Regions from separate parts of the Homo sapiens genome. Here region 2 is linked to region 1. A link means that fine-mapping ties the variant in region 1 to the expression of a gene that starts in the linked region. Tissue or cell type: whole blood. Region 1 holds a variant in brackets; the other region holds the start of a gene. All regions are shown on one strand. Distances are from middle to middle. Region 1 overlaps GCLM (glutamate-cysteine ligase modifier subunit). Region 2 holds the start of GCLM (glutamate-cysteine ligase modifier subunit).

Region 1 (8,347 bases):
AGCGTGTATCTAGCTTTAAGAATGTACTTGTACTTTGGCCCTTCATTCCACAGCCAGGCATGCATTTTAAAATGTTCATCATCTGCATCATTGTGACGGTTTGTTTCTTCCATATTTGGAGATAAATTTATGTGTAGACTTTTTTTTTGTAAGACATAGTTGATAATGAAAATTTATTTAAATGGTCTTGCAATGATTTAAGTATTCAAATGCTTAAAGAAAGCATTGCTGGTACAAATATTTCTATTTTTAGAAAGGGTTTTTATGGATCAATGCCCCAAGTGTCATCAGAGCCATTGGTGTTTTCATTTTTAAAATGTCACCTGTAAAATGGGCATTATTTATGTGTATATGGCTTTTTTTGGCATTCCTGATAAATGTATTATATAAAGTCTATACATTGGATAATAACACTAGTATATTTAAACTTACAGACTTATTTGTAATGCAAACCACCATTTTAATGTACTGTAATTAATATGGTTATAATATATATATAGTCCTTCTGTCCTACCATCACACAACTTTTTGTGTGTGTAATAAACCGCTTTTGGTTTGAAAATATTTTTCGAGGCCGGGCACGGTGGCTCACACCTGTAATCCTAGCACTTTAGGAGGCCAAGGTGGGTGGATCACCTGAGGTCAGGAGTTCGAGACCAGCCTGACCAACATGGTGAAACCCCATCTCTACTAAAATATAAAATTAGCCAGGCATGGTGGTGCATGCCTGTAATCCCAGTTACTTGGGAGGCTGAGGCAGAAGAATTGCTTGAACCCGGGAGGTGGAGGTTGCAGTGGGCCAAGATCACACCATTGCACTCCAGCCTGGGCAACAGAGTGAGATGCCATCTCAAAAAAAAATATATATATATATATTTTTTAAAAAAAGAATGTTTATCCTGGCATTATTCTTATTAGCAAAATATTAGGAAAAACATAAATGTTTTGACCAATAATAAGGAAATATATGAATTATGATATCTATGTAATATAGTAATGGGGAAATTATTAAAAATGATCTTTTCACAGACTATTACATGGGAAAATATTCACAATATAAGTGGAAAAAGATAAGCAAATAAGGCTTTAACTACAGTGTGATTTCTAATTTTGTAAGATATGGATATACACACACACATACAGATATAAGATCTAGAGATATATAGAGATTCAAGATATGGATGAAGATATATATATATATATGAAGATATATACTCATATACACCAAAAAAGTTGTAAGGAAATGCATGACAATGTTATATCATCTCCAATTGATAGGATTATCAGTTACTTTTTTTTTCTTTAGACTTTCCTGTATTTTCCCTGACTATACATTAGAATCACCTGGAGATCTTTAAAAAACTGCAGATGTCTAGGCTCCACTCACCAAAAGTTAAGAATTAAATAGGCTGGGGTACAGGTGTAGATACTTTTTAAATAACTGCCTGGGAATTTCTAATATTCTGGTTCAGATTCATAGCACACACATGAAGAATAAGCATATTATATATTAAATGTTGAGGTGTTTCTTTTGTTATGTTAAATGCTTACCTACATACTAAAGTGCTTTTTTGTTTTCCAATTTAACACGCTGGAGTTTTGTTTGTTGTTGTTTCTTTTAGAACTGCTTTCTGAAGCAAGTTTCCAAGAAGCTCTTCAGGAAAGCATTCCTGACATTCAAGCGCACGAGTGGGTGCCGCTGTGGCTACTGCGGTATTCGGTCATTGTGAAAAGTAGAGGAATTATCAAATCAAAAGGCTACATTTTACAAGCTAAAAGAAGGGGTTCTTAACTGACTTAGGAGCATAACTTACCTGTAATTTCCTTCAATATGAGAGAAAATTGAGATGTGTAAAAATCTAGTTACTGCCTGTAAATGGTGTCATTGAGGCAGATATTCTTTCGTCATATTTGACAGTATGTTGTCTGTCAAGTTTTAAATACTTATCTTGCCTCCATATCAATCCATTCTCATGAACCTCTGTATTGCTTTCCTTAAACTATTGTTTTCTAATTGAAATTGTCTATAAAGAAAATACTTGCAATATATTTTTCCTTTATTTTTATGACTAATATAAATCAAGAAAATTTGTTGTTAGATATATTTTGGCCTAGGTATCAGGGTAATGTATATACATATTTTTTATTTCCAAAAAAAATTCATTAATTGCTTCTTAACTCTTATTATAACCAAGCAATTTAATTACAATTGTTAAAACTGAAATACTGGAAGAAGATATTTTTCCTGTCATTGATGAGATATATCAGAGTAACTGGAGTAGCTGGGATTTACTAGTAGTGTAAATAAAATTCACTCTTCAATACATGAATGGAAACTTAAATTTTTTTTTATGTGTCCTTGCTTATAGTTTAGCTGTAATAATTTAACCTTGTATTCTTGTGCCATATTCTGTCTTTTTATTACTTATAAAGACAAACCAAAGTAAATCTGAAAGGAGACTAGAAGCTTTGAAATTATTGTTTGGGGGTTTTATAAAAGCAACTACTGTCACCTCCATCCAGATTCTTTTAAATTATTGATCCATCCATAGTATATATTGCTACTCATTCAAGAATCCTCAATAAGTATTGAGTATTTACCATATGTTGGGATACTGTGGGCTCTGGAGAGAGGAGGGGGCAATAGAGCTAGGAATTAAGAATCAGTTGAGTAAAATGTGTAATATTTATTCCCCATTAATAACTGACTAGGAAGGACTAAAAGCCAGAAAGGGGATGAAAAAAAAATCCTTAATTCAGGGCCGACATTATCTACTTAAACAACTTTGAGATATGGTCTTAATTATTTTAAAGCAGAATAATATAATTGAAAGTTTATAGCTAAAAGAGACTATATAGGTCATTTAGTATAATTCTTCATTAGTTTACGAACCACAAAATTGCAAATAAATAAGCTATGAACTTTGATGTACACTATAAATCTCCTTAATTCTATAAATTTGTGTCTGTAACCTGAATAGTTTGAAAACTTCTTTAAAAATCTCTTGTATTTCATCCGGGCGCAGTGGCTCACACCTGTAATCCCAGCACTTTGGGAGGCCGAGGTGGGCAGATCACGAGGTCAGGAGTTTGAGACCAGCCTGACCAACATGGTAAAACCCCATCTCTACTAAAATACAAAAATTGGCTGGGCGTGGTGGCACTCGCCTGTAATCTCAGCTACTTGGGAGGCTGAGGCAGGAGAATCGCTTGAACCCGGGAGGCGGAGGTTACAGTGAGCCGAGATCACATCACTGCACTCCAGCCTGGGCGACAGAGCGAGACTCCATCTCAAAAAAAAAAAAAAACTCTTGTATCTCAATATTTTTAAACCACAGGCCTAAATAAAACTAATTTTGCTCAAGTTTTCTCAACCTAGGGAAAAAGAACTATGGTTCCATATTCAAAATAAATATTATAGACCCTTTTCCTAAGTAGGATTTTGTGGTTTACTGATTGGGTAATTTGATCATTAAAATTATGTGAAATCTGCCCGGGCACACCTCATGCCTGTAATCCCAGCACTCTGGGAGGCCAAGGCAGATGATCACCTGAGGTCAGGAGTTCTAGACCAGCCTGGCTAACATGGTGAAACCCTGTATCTGCTAAAAATACAAAAATTAGCCAGGCGTGGTGGCGGGCTCCTGTAATCCCAGCTACTTTGGAGGCGAGGCACGAGAATCGCTTGAACCTGGGAGGCGGAGTTTGCAGTGAGCCGAGATCACGCCATTGCACTCCAGCCTGGGCGACAGAGCGAGACTGCGTCTCAAAAAAAAAAAAAAAAGAAAAATTATGTGAAATCATGTGATTTGCCTGGGAAAACTTGTTTAGATATTGAGCTACTTATGCCTTCTAGCCTTTATATTAATTGTATGTAATGTTATTAAATATATATATAGTTCATCTTTACATTTGGAAATGCCCAACATTTTTTTCATATAAGTCCTTAAACAAGCGTTCATTTTATTTTAAATCTATACAGTGAACTGGCCAAGATATTTTAAGAGGGAACTTTAATATCCCATTTATTGTTTTTATAACCCTGGACTTATAAAAATGGGTTGTTTGAAGGGTTATTTTGAAAGTGGGGGAAAAAAAAACTTAGTTGCTAATGTATCTAAACTTCAGCAGAGCTTTTTGGTGATCTCCTACCTGCACCCTCAACTCTTGACAAAGAAGCAAGACTATAGATTCATTTTCTGAAGGGGATCATGTATGGAATTTTTTGATGAGTTTTTACTTTTACCTCTCTACTCTTGATTTTCTATTATTGAATACTCTTTTAAAACACTGATTTTTAAGGCTTTATATATGTTTTCCAGGCTGATGTTCACATCTTTTTTTCATGAACTATCAGAATATAGTGAACACTTTTCAAATATTTAAGGACTTAATGTTTAAAAAGCCATAAAATAGAGAGTGGTAATACTACCAAATAATTACTTAAAACTGAAAGCTAAGTTATCAATAGTTTATATAAGAGATGTTTTCTGAGGAGATGTGCATCCAGTGAGACCAAGGTAGAAAGTTTATATAATTGTTTTTTTTCCAGTAAATATGAAAAAAAAA[G/AG]CTGTAGCTTGTTTATTACATGTCCAAAATACAGTGGAGCCTTACTTTAACACAATGTACTGTAACTTGGAATTTGTTCTGTTATGAGTCTATCTTGAATTCCCATCCATGAAACTGTAGTCACCAAAAGCAACAAGTATTTTCACATGATGTAAAAGACCATACTATGATGGCCATTGCTAGAAATTGAATCACAAATAATAGCTAATAATTTTTCATTTTTCAAAAAAGATCATTTGGATAGCAGCTATGTATAAAATGGAAAATAAAAAATTATTCTATTTTGCATGAATAGTTCAGACTTTCCCATACCACAGCCAAGCAGTAACTAAAATTAGGATCTTAATTTTCAATGATAAAAGGTCTAAGGTTCATTTAATTATGCTCCTTTAACACTGTCTTTCTAGATTTTTCACCCAGTATTTTCAAAATTTGGGAATGTAAACAATTGATATATTTATTGTATGTTGGCTAGCAGTTCATCCTTCTGCAAAATATGCATTCAGAGAAATGTGAAGCTTGTTTTAATGAAGACTTAAACCATTTGTGTCATTTGTGTTTTCATATTCAAATACACCAAATTAAAATTCTGAACCTATATTTTTCATCATTAACTTCCTAATATACCAGAACATATACCTTTTTCATGTAAAGTTGGCAATGGGATATGGCAGTTTTATTTTTGAAAAATATGTAACATGACTTTAATATTTTTATAGTTTTCAGAATTAGAAACATAGGAAGGGAAAATGTTTTAATTAGATAAGTCAACTTTTTATGTGTCTGTAGTGGTGTACTATAATAGCAAATTATAAAGCATTATTAAATGTTTATAATAATTTTTAATATTACCTACATTATGAATTTAACTAAAATAAAGTGTGAGTTGTATATTTTTTAATTGGGTTGTTTCAATAGCTGGAAGCATCCTGAAGCATTATATTGATTTTTGAACTATTTGAACTCAAACTGAGTATGATTTGAAAATAAATTAATAATTTAAAAACATCCAAATCATAAAGCTATTTATGCATTCATTCATTCCACAAAGATTTATTGAATGCCTGCTATGTGTTAGGCACTGTGCTACAGATGGACACAGATGAAAAATAACTCCTATACCCAAGGAATATACGATATATTTGGGGGGAAAGGGAGGAATCTGTATGTGAATAAGAGCAATAAAAGGCTGCATCTGTTGGCTGGGCGCAGTGGCTCACACCTGTAATTCCAGCACTTTAGGAGGCCGAGGCGGGCAGATCACTTGAGGCCAGAAGTTCGAGACCAGCCTGGCCAACATGGTGAAACCCAGTCTCTACTAAAAATACAAAAATTATTCGGGCATGGTGGTACATGCCTGTAATCCCAGCTACTTGGGAGGCTGAGGGATAAGAATCACTTGAACCTGGGAGGTGGAGGTTGCAGTGAGCCGAGATCACACCACTGCACTCCAGCATGGGTGACAGAGCCAGACTCTGTCCCCCAAAAAAAGAAAAAAGGCCGGGCACAGTGGCTCATGCCTGTAATCCCAGCACTTTGGGAGGCCGAGGTGGGCAGACCACGAGGTCGGGAGATTGAGACCATCCTGGCCAACATGGTGAAACCCTGTCTCTACTAAAAATACAAAAATTAGCTGGGCGTGGTGGCATGTGCCTGTAGTCCCAGCTACTCAGGAGGCTGAGGCAGGAGAATCGCTTGAACCAGGGAGTTGGAGGTTGCAGTGAGCCAAGATCATGCCACTGCACTCCAGCCTGGTGACAGAGCAAGACTCCGTTTCAAAAAAAAAAAAAAAGCTGTATCTGTTGATAGAAGTAATGAAAAGGACTGGGGCATGTGGAAGGAAGTGGGACTGAGTAGCAGGTTAAGGATAAGAAAAACTTCCCTGAAGAAATTAGCTTTAGACTAGGGTCAGATGACAAGGTGTGGTAGGCATTCTGGGCAGAAACCCTTGTTTGCCTGGTTTGTAAATATGCCCCTATTGAATGATGGAGTAGTTAATATGTAAACTTTAGAAGTTCAAGGAAAACATCTTCAAAAGCTTATTCTTATAGAAAGGAATGGCTTCTGTTGAGATAAGCGTAGGTTAAGTTTGGAAAAGTCATAAAAAGATGAAAGCTTGCTAATTTCCTCTAAATATATCAGGATATGGTCATATGTAGTTCCGCTACCAGAGAAGTCAACAAAAGCTTTAACATGTTTCCTCAGCAATGACTAAATGTGTAAAATGTCATGCAAGATTTTGATGTGTCTGCTGGTCCATTATTTTAAGGTTCATGTTTTACAATGAACATTACTTATTTTGATTATTTTCCCTCTTTCTTTGCTCACTGTTGATTCTTGCATTCTATTCAAGTTTTTTTTTTTTGTTTTTTTTTTTTTTGAGACAGGGATCTCACTCTGTTTCTTAGGCTGGTGTACTGTGGCATGATCATGGCTCACTGCAGCCTCAACCTCCCAGGCTTAAGCCATCCTCCCACCTCAGCCTCTCAAGTAGCTGGGACTACAGACATGCACCACCACACCTGGCTAACTTTTATTTTTGTAGAGACAGGATCTCGCTATGTTGCCCAGGCTGGTCTTGAACTCTTGGACTCAAGTGATCCTCTCACCACAGCCTCCCAAAGTGCTGGGATTACAGGCATGAGACACAGTACCTAGCCTCCTTAGTAATTCTTTACCAAAGGTCTTTAGTGACAGTAAATTTTCTAGATCCCATTTGTCTGAAATGTCTTTATTTTGCACTCAACCTTTGTTTTTTGTTTTTGTTTTTGTTTTTTATAGAGATCAGTTTTCATTATGTTGCCCAGATTGGAGTGCAGTGGTTATTCACAGGTGTGATCATCGCATACTACTGCCTAGAACTCCTGAACTAAACAATCCTCCTGCTCCAGCCTCCCAAGTTGCTGAGACTACAGGCACATGCCACCACACCCAGCTTAGTTTGCACTCAATCTTAAATGATCATTTGACATTACAGAATTCTAAAAGCCCCCAAATACAATATTGAAAACCAGATACAACCCAAATGTCTATCAACAGCTGAATGGATAAATCCATTGTTATATAGTCATACAATGAAATACTCAGCAATAAAAAAGAATCAACTACTGGTATACACAATAACATGGATGAATTACAGAAACACTATGCTGAGTGAAAGAAGCTAGACATGAGTACATACTGTATTATTTCTTTTTTCTTTTTTTTTTTTTTAAGACGTGGTCTCGCTCTGTCACCCAGGCTGGAGTGCAGTGGCATGATCATGGCTCACTGCAGCCTCAACCTCCCAGGCTCAAGTGATCCTCCCACCTCAGCCTCCCAAGTAGCTGGGACTACTGGCGCATGCCACCATGCCTGGCTAATTTTTATATATTTTGTAGAGATGGGGTTTTGTTATGTTGCCCAGGCTGGTCTCAAACTCCTGGGCTCAAGTGATCCTGCCTCCTCAACCTCCCAAAGTGCTGGGATTACAGGTATGAGCCTCTGTACCTGGCCTGTATTATTTATTTTACTTGAAATTTTAGGAGAGATGAAGTTAATCTATAACTACTGGTTATCTATTGTTGTATCTGGATGACTTTGAGGCATCCAGATGCAGCAATGGATAAGTCAAGACTGCAGTCTCACCTGAAGGCTGGACTGAGGGTCTGTTTCCAAGCTCACTCGTGTAGTTGTTGGCAGGACTCAGTGCCTCACACGTTGTCAGACTGAGTTCCTTAATTCTTCACTGGGTGTAGGCCAGAGGCCTCCTTCACTCAGTTCCTTGCCACAGTGTTCT
Region 2 (8,347 bases), 23 kb before region 1:
CAGGACTGAAGGAGATAGAGACACAAAAAACTCTTCAAAAAGTCAATGAATCCAGGAGCCGGTTTTCTGAAAAGATCAACAAAATAGACTACTAGCAAGACTAATAAAGAAGAAAAGAGAGAAGAATAAAATAGATGCAATAAAAAATGATAAAGGGGATATCACCACTGATCCCACAGAAAATACAAACTACCATCAGAGAATACTATAAACACCTGAATAGACCAATAACAGGTTCTGAAATTGAGGCAATAATTAATAGCCTACCAACCAAAAAAAGTCCAGGACCAGACAGATTCACAGCCAAATTCTACCAGAGGTACAAAGAGGAGCTGGTACCATTCCTTCTGAAACTATTCCAATCAATAGAAAAAGAGGGAATCCTTCCTAACTCATTTTATGAAGCCAGCATCATCCTAATACCAAAGCCTGGCAAAGACACACACAAAAAAGAGAATTTTATACCAATATCCCTGATGAACATCAATGTGAAAATCCTCAATAAAATACTGGCAAACTGAATCCAGTAGCACATCAAAAAGCTTATCCACCACGATCAAGTTGGCTTCATCCCTGGGATGCAAGGCTGGTTCAACATACGCAAATCAATAAAAGTAATCCATCACATAAACAGAACGAAAGACAAAAACCACATGATTATCTCAATAGATGCAGAAAAGGCCTTTGACAAAATTCAACAGCCCTTCATGCTAAAAACTCTCAATAAACTCGGTATTCGTGGAATGTATCTCAAAATAATAAGAGCTATTTATGACAAACCCACAGCCAATATCATACTGAATGGGCAAAAACTGGAAGCATTCCCTTTGAAAACTGGCACAAGACAGGGATGCCCTCTCTCAACACTCCTATTCCACATAGTGTTGGAAGTTCTGGCCAGGGCAATCAGGCAAGAGAAAGAAATAAAGGGTATTCAGATAGGAAAAGAGGAAGTCAAATTGTCCCTGTTTGCAGATGACATGATTGTATATTTAGAAAACCCCATCATCTCAGCCCAAAATCTCCTTAAGCTGATAAGCAACTTCAGCAAAGTCTCAGGATACAAATTCAATGTGCAAAAATCACAAGCATTCCTCTACACCAATAACAGACAAACAGAGAGCCAAATCATGAGAGAACTGCCATTCACAATTGCTTTGAAAAGAATAAAATACCTAGGAATCCATCTTACAAGGGATGAGACGGACCTCTTCAAGGAGAACTACAAACCACTGCTCAACAAAATAAAAGAGGACACAAACAAACGGAAGAACATTCCATGCTCATGGATAGGAAGAAACAATAGTGTGAAAATGGCCATACTGCCCAAGGTAATTTATAGATTCAATGCCATCCCCATCAAGCTACCAATGACTTTCTTCACAGAATGGGAAAAAACTACTTTAAAGTTCATATGGAACCAAAAAAGAGCCTGCATTGCCAAGACAATCCTAAGCAAAAAGAACAAAGCTGGAGGCATCATGCTACCTGACTTCAAACCATACTACAAGGCTACAGTAACCAAAACAGCATGGTACAAAAGAGAGATACAGACCAATGGAACAGAATAGAGGCCTCAGAAATAACACCACACATCTACAACCATCTGATCTTTGACAAACCTGACAAAAACAAGAAATGGGGAAAGGATTCCCTATTTAATAAATGGTGCTGGGGAAATTGGCTAGCCATATGTAGAAAGCTGAAACTGGATCCCTTCCTTACACCTTATACAAAAATTAATTCAAGATGGATTAAAGACTTAAATGTTATACCTAAAACCATAAAAACCCTAGAAGAAAACCTAGGAAATACCACTCAGGACATAGGCATGGGCAAGGACTTCATGACTAAAACACCAAAAGCAATGGCAACAAAAGCCAAAATAGACAAATGGGATCTAATTAAACTAAAGAGCTTCTGCACAGCAAAAGAAACTACCATCAGAGTGAACAGGCAACCTACAGAATGGGAGAAAATTTTTGCAATCTACCCATCTGACAAAGGGCTAATATCCAGAATCTACAAAGAACTTAAATTTACAAGAAAAAATCAAACAACCCCATCAAAAAGTGGGCAAAGTATATGAACAGACACTTTTCAAAAGAAGACATTTATGCAGCCAACAGACACATGAAAAAATGCTTATCATCACTGGTCATCAGAGAAATGCAAATCAAAACCATAATGAGATACCATCTCACACCAGTTAGAATGGCAATCATTAAAAAGTCAGGAAACAACAGGTGCTGGAGAGGATGTGGAGAACTAGGAACACTTTTACACTGTCAGTGGTAGTGTAAACTAGTTCAACATTGTGGAAGACAGTGTGGTGACTCCTCAAGGGCCTAGAACTAGAAATACCATTTGACCTAGCGATCTCATTACTGGGTATATACCCAAAGGATTATAAATCATGCTACTATAAAGACACATGCACAGGTATGTTTATTTTGGCACTATTCACAATAGCAAAGACTTGGAACCAACCCAAATGTCCATCAATGATAGACTGGATTAAGAAAATGTGGCACATACACACCATGGAATACTATGCAGCCATCAAAAAGGATGAGTTCATGTCCTTTGTAGGGAATGGATGAAGCTGGAAACCATCATTCTGAGCAAATTGTCGCAAGGACAGAAAACCAAACGCTGCATGTTCTCACTCATAGGTGGGAATTGAACCATGAGAACACTTGGACACAGGGTGGGAAACATCACACACTGGGGCCTGTCATGGGGTGGGGGGTTGGCGGAGGGATAGCATTAGGAGAAATACCTAATGTAAATAACGAATTAATGGGTGCAGCAAACCAACATGGCACTTGTATACATATGTAACAAACCTGCACATTGTGCACATGTACCCTAGAACTTAAAGTATTATAAAACAAAAAGTATAGACAAATCTTATTCAATCTTGAGTTCAGAAGATAGTTATATCGGGTTTCATTATAGTATTCTTGCTATTTTTGTATATGTTGGAATTATTTACAACAAATGTTAATTGTATGTTACAGTGCATCAAAATGTGTTTAAGTAGTGGTGGTGCTTGTGGGTAGCTCTTTCACTATAATAAAAAATCAATATCCAAAAAAAAAAAAAAAAAGCAGCGCAAGCTCGTTCAATGAACTCTTACCATCATTCATTCAGCCAACAAATATTTACTCAACATCAGGCTCAATTTCTAACTTCCTAGAAAGATCTTTTTTCCCATCCCTCCCCTAATTCTTACCATTTTACCAACTGGTTCATCTCTCTTTTCAATAGCTATATTGTCCCCGCTTATAATGAGAATCTCATTTTGCCTTTAATAATCTGATTCACCTCAACGAATGTGAAAGATTGTTGAGGAAAGCTCAATACATGTTCAATTTGATGTTTATACCGAGTCCACCACCACACGTGAAATTTAATAGGGGTAAATAATCTCGACCACCTCTAAAGGGGTGGGTGATAAAAGCTTTCTGTGATCTCACCGGCTCAAGTGTCCTCTTTAATCTGAATTCATCTGGAGAATAACTGCCCTATGATGTTCTTATAAAATTACTTGTTTCCTGTGCTTAGAACTTGTCTCTGGGTAGAGTGTACGCGTCTCAAGGGCAAAGACTCAGTCTTGTTCGTTGACTTCACACACTGCCAGCAAATAATGTGAATCAATAGACCTTTAACGGATGAAGAAAAATTAGCAGTTTGGGAGAAGGTCCTTGAAGGTAGCAAAGCGAAAAGAAGAAGGGGGCGCTTGCGCATAAACAGCTGCTTCTGAGAACGAAAACTACGTAGCATTTCCGAGTCCCGGTGGCCGCTCAGGCTGCCCTTTAAAGAGACGTGTAGGAAGCCCACCCTGGGGCGGCCGTGGGCGGAGCCGCGACCTGAACGCCGGGAGACCTCACCAGGCGGAGGCGGTGTCTACCTCACCAGGCGGAGGCGGTGTCTGCCTCGCGCTGTCCTCTGACCGCCAGGGGGAGCCCTGCCGCGCGCTGCGCTCCGGGCCGCGCCGCCACGCTCTCTCGACCCGCGCGCCCGCCGCGCACCACCCGTCGCCACGCCCGCCGCAGGCCAAGGGCCAGTCACTTGCGGGCCGGCGTCCCGCAGCCCATTCGCGCCCCGCCCCTGCCCCGCCGCGGGATGAGTAACGGTTACGAAGCACTTTCTCGGCTACGATTTCTGCTTAGTCATTGTCTTCCAGGAAACAGCTCCCTCAGTTTGGAATCAGCTCTCCCGCTGCGGCCGCAGTAGCCGGAGCCGGAGCCGCAGCCACCGGTGCCTTCCTTTCCCGCCGCCGCCCAGCCGCCGTCCGGCCTCCCTCGGGCCCGAGCGCAGACCAGGCTCCAGCCGCGCGGCGCCGGCAGCCTCGCGCTCCCTCTCGGGTCTCTCTCGGGCCTCGGGCACCGCGTCCTGTGGGGCGGCCGCCTGCCTGCCCGCCCGCCCGCAGCCCCTTCGCTGCGCGGCCCCTGGGCGGCCGCTGCCATGGGCACCGACAGCCGCGCGGCCAAGGCGCTCCTGGCGCGGGCCCGCACCCTGCACCTGCAGACGGGGAACCTGCTGAACTGGGGCCGCCTGCGGAAGAAGTGCCCGTCCACGCACAGCGAGGAGGTGAGCGTGGCGACACTCGCCGCGGGGCTCCCGGGGCAGGCCTCGGGCGGGGCCGGGCGGTTCCGGCAAGGGAGAAGCGCCCGCGGGCGAGGGAGGGTGGCAGGGCCTCGCGCGCACCTGGGCTCCGCCCGCGGTCAGATGCTGAGGCCAGTGTCGACGCGACCTTGGGTCCAAACCCGCTGCCGAGGGCAACGCGTCTAAAAAACTTAGCCGGTGCAGCTGCGCACTGAGTGACACCTCTCTCGGTGCTTAAGGCTGGTAGCAAAACTCTCAAACATCCTGGGTCCCTCTTCCTGGCACGGAGGTCACAGAGGGCCAGGACGTCGCTCCGTCTCTCTCCACATCTCTCGCTTCCTTCCCCCACCCTGTCCAGGTAAAGGAATATTTTCGGAGATTATCCTTTGGTGCATTCAGATGAAGTAGTATTCATAGTACACCTAACTTTTAGAATGTTGACATTAGACTCTCTATTGCAGTGAGGCAAATGAGTAAGCACTCAATTTTGGCTTTGGAATACCCTAAATACCCTGACTTTAGTCATTACACATTTTATGCACTTATCTGTGCGTCTATGTATGCTTTATCAGTACACATTCTATGCATGTAACAATATCATTGTACATTCTATGCATGTAACAGAATATCACATGTGCCCCATAAATATGTACAAATATAATCTATCAATTCAAAAATTAAAGTTTTGTAAAAACTGGAAAATAAAAAGACTAGTCACTAGTTGGAGGTGACAGAGATTAATCTGGAATTACAAACTTGTTACCTATTTGTTGGCCATTTCTGAGCGGATAGTCATCCACTGCACATTGTGCATATTGGTGGTATGGGACAATTTTAGTATTTAAAAAATAACAAAATCTTTAGATTTAGGAGCTATATGACTTTGGAAAATTACTTTAAAGTTGGATAATAACACCTTCCTCATCAGGTTGTTGTGAGAATTAAGAGGTAATATATGAAAACGCTCACCATGCAGGCATCTATCTCCCTGTCATCTGGTTCCATCAGAAAGATAAATCTTAATTAAGAGAAAAACCTTCCTAAACTATGTGTGTTTAGAAAAACCTTCCTAAATCAGCTGTGTTCCTAAGTGGTTTCTGCTCTCTTCTATGAGATGTTGGTAACAGACCATGCAGCAGCACACGGCATCCCTCTGAGTTAAGTGCTGGACCTGTGCCCAGGCCTGTTGTTGGGGTCAGTGCCCATCAAGAGATGAGAACTCTTGCTTGTAACTTTAGTAGGAATCTGAGTCTGTACCATATTCTGTGTTCACGTTCCAGCTCAGTGTGTATGTTTTGTTTTATTTAAACCACCTACTTTGGCTGTTTCTCCCACAGATAAATATTTCTGTATTCGGTACATAGACTCTTAATTTCTTCCAGTACTGTTGGTGGTAGTTCAATACAGAATTTTGCACGTATATTGATATTATTGGGTGAAATTTTACCTATCTCACAATAGCATACTCTAAAGTAGTGACTCAAAAGAGTTTCTGACTGCAAACACAGTAAGAAGTACATTTTACTTTGCAATCCAGTTAATAGTTGTATAATCAGTATATCTGAAACAGGTTTCACAAAAAGATATTAGCCCTTATACCGTATATTCTGATTTTTTCTTTTATTTTAATTTTTAAAATGTTGATTTCTTGATGCTCAGAGTCACACACCACAGTTTGTAAAACATTGTTCAAAGGACTAATTCTGGTTTCTAGTGTTTTATTTAGGGTGCTTCATAACAGTAGGATAAAACTAAAGAAACTAGAAAACATTTCAGGAAAACTTGAAGGAATGGCATCATACTGTAGGGAAACTATGACTGCTTGGTAAGAGCAAAAGGGGAGGCACATTTTGTTTCTATGTAAAAGAACTTTGTAACACCCAGAGCTCCAAATTGGGATGTACTACTTGGAACAGTTCCGCTTCACTGAAGAAATTAAGTAAACTGAACAAATCACTTATTTTTGAGAAAATGTACGTGTTGGGTCAAGAGTTCAGTTAAATTTCTTACAAGGTCTCTTCTAGTTCTAATTTTTTAAAAAATGTTATGACCTCTGCCCAGATTTTTTGTCTCACTGGAATTTTATGAAATCAAATAGTTTGTAAGTGGACCATTATAGGACTGTTTTGCCCAGTTCTTTGTTGTAAGGGTGTTTGACCGGTTGAATCATGGTATTTAAAAAATTCTTATACAACTCCAGATCTAATGGTAGGCTAAGTTGTGGTGATGCTTATACTCAGTGATATTGGGTGTGTATTATAAGAATGAAGAGAGCGGAGAACAAACATAAACATTAATGTTAATGACAAACATTAACCCAAGTACAAGGTTAATGTTTAGTCAATATAGCAAACATGTAATTTACAAGATTAAAAATAATTAGGCTTGTGATAAAGTCAATGAATTTCCTACGTAATTGTAACATTAGACTGTTTTATTATTTGTCCTGACATTTTGCAGAATCCAAGATTAATTAAAGAAATGGTTTCAAGAAGAGGGTGAATACTATAAAAATAGACTTACCTTCCTGAATTGAGGAATTCATCAGGAAAGCCTCAAGTGTGCAAATGAGCCATCCTTCCAGAGGGAAATTTCTTAGAATTATCCCACGATTTGAGCCAAAGCACTTCCGATAGAATTTTTAACCTCTAGTTGGTTCTGCTCCTTCCATTTTTACTAATTTTTAAGAAAATACTATGACTTATAATTGTATCTGGAATGATTATCAACTCCTTTTCATCCACTGACTTAAATTTGATTATAAATATGCTTTACATAAAGATCTAGACCTTATAATTTGAATTCAAGTGAATTGTTGTGACTAGCATGTAAATTATTATTATGGATTGTAAATCTTAACATAGGTAGTTCTGTGCCCTTAAATTGATAAACCAGTTATCTCTTGTAATCATGTGTACTAAGATATACGTAGTAAAGTGATTGTATCAGTTTTTATCATAAGCAGTCATAGTTCAGATAGTTCAGAAGTTTAGTGTCTGCTGTTTCTATTAGGAAAGTGCTTTTGCAATTCAGGGGCTTGCCTCTAGTTACTCATTTGTGTTTTCATTGATTGCCCACAGAAGAATGCAAAACACTGTGTCCTTGGTTATCTAATAAGGCAGTGATTTCAGATTGCCAGGTTTGGCCCATTAGTGGTCATAAATCAGTTCAGTGAGTCATGGACCAGTATATTTTTTCTAATTAATATATTGGAAGCCATTAGAGTGCCTGGCATGTTGTGAGCATAAATACCGCTTTATGACTGTTTTGTTCCATTATATGTATATAGGTCTTTGCTCACTATGTGAATGTATGTCTTACTTTGGACTACTATCAAATAAGTCTGAAATACACTTTAATAAAGTATGTTTGAATTAATTTACAACATACTATAATATTTGTATAAATTTTTTTTTGTTTATCTAAGAAAACATGGAAGATAGGTTAGAGGTGCACCTAAATGTTACGAAATGACTTCTGGAGTGTCATACAAGTTGAGTTCTGCAAGATATGTCTATCCTGGTGGTTCTCAGACTTTAGAGTACGTAGATAAAGTACTCTCCTTAGGATGCTTGTTAAAATGAAAGTCCAAACTGCTCTTGGAGAATGATTCAGTGGGTCTAGGATTAGGCTCAGGAGTCTGAAATTTTAATAAACAGCACAGGTGAATCTGAGGTAGGATTTACCAGCCACACTTATTCTCTAATAATTTAATTTGTTTGTCTTTGAGAAA

What was found. PIP is the estimated chance that this variant, and not a neighbour inherited with it, causes the effect.
Region 2: it holds the start of GCLM, and the variant in region 1 is fine-mapped to the expression of GCLM in whole blood (INTERVAL, PIP above 0.99).

What each region holds. Positions count from the first base shown.
Region 1 is chr1:93,882,435-93,890,781 of GRCh38, reverse strand. It overlaps GCLM (glutamate-cysteine ligase modifier subunit), which reads left to right. Exons shown (of 7, transcript NM_002061.4): 7 at 1,623-5,583. The coding sequence ends at 1,792. Among named protein-coding and RNA genes, the nearest start is that of DNTTIP2, 7.4 kb to the right of the region's middle. The variant G/AG (reference allele first, on the strand shown) is at 4,570.
Region 2 is chr1:93,905,290-93,913,636 of GRCh38, reverse strand. GCLM (glutamate-cysteine ligase modifier subunit) reads left to right here and starts at 4,207. Exons shown (of 7, transcript NM_002061.4): 1 at 4,207-4,599. The coding sequence starts at 4,474. It overlaps LOC124904221 (a long non-coding RNA gene), which reads right to left and starts at 4,045. Exons shown (of 2, transcript XR_007066230.1): 1 at 3,483-4,045. RefSeq lists an enhancer at 3,684-3,843 and silencers at 3,884-4,123, 4,334-4,693, 4,744-4,793.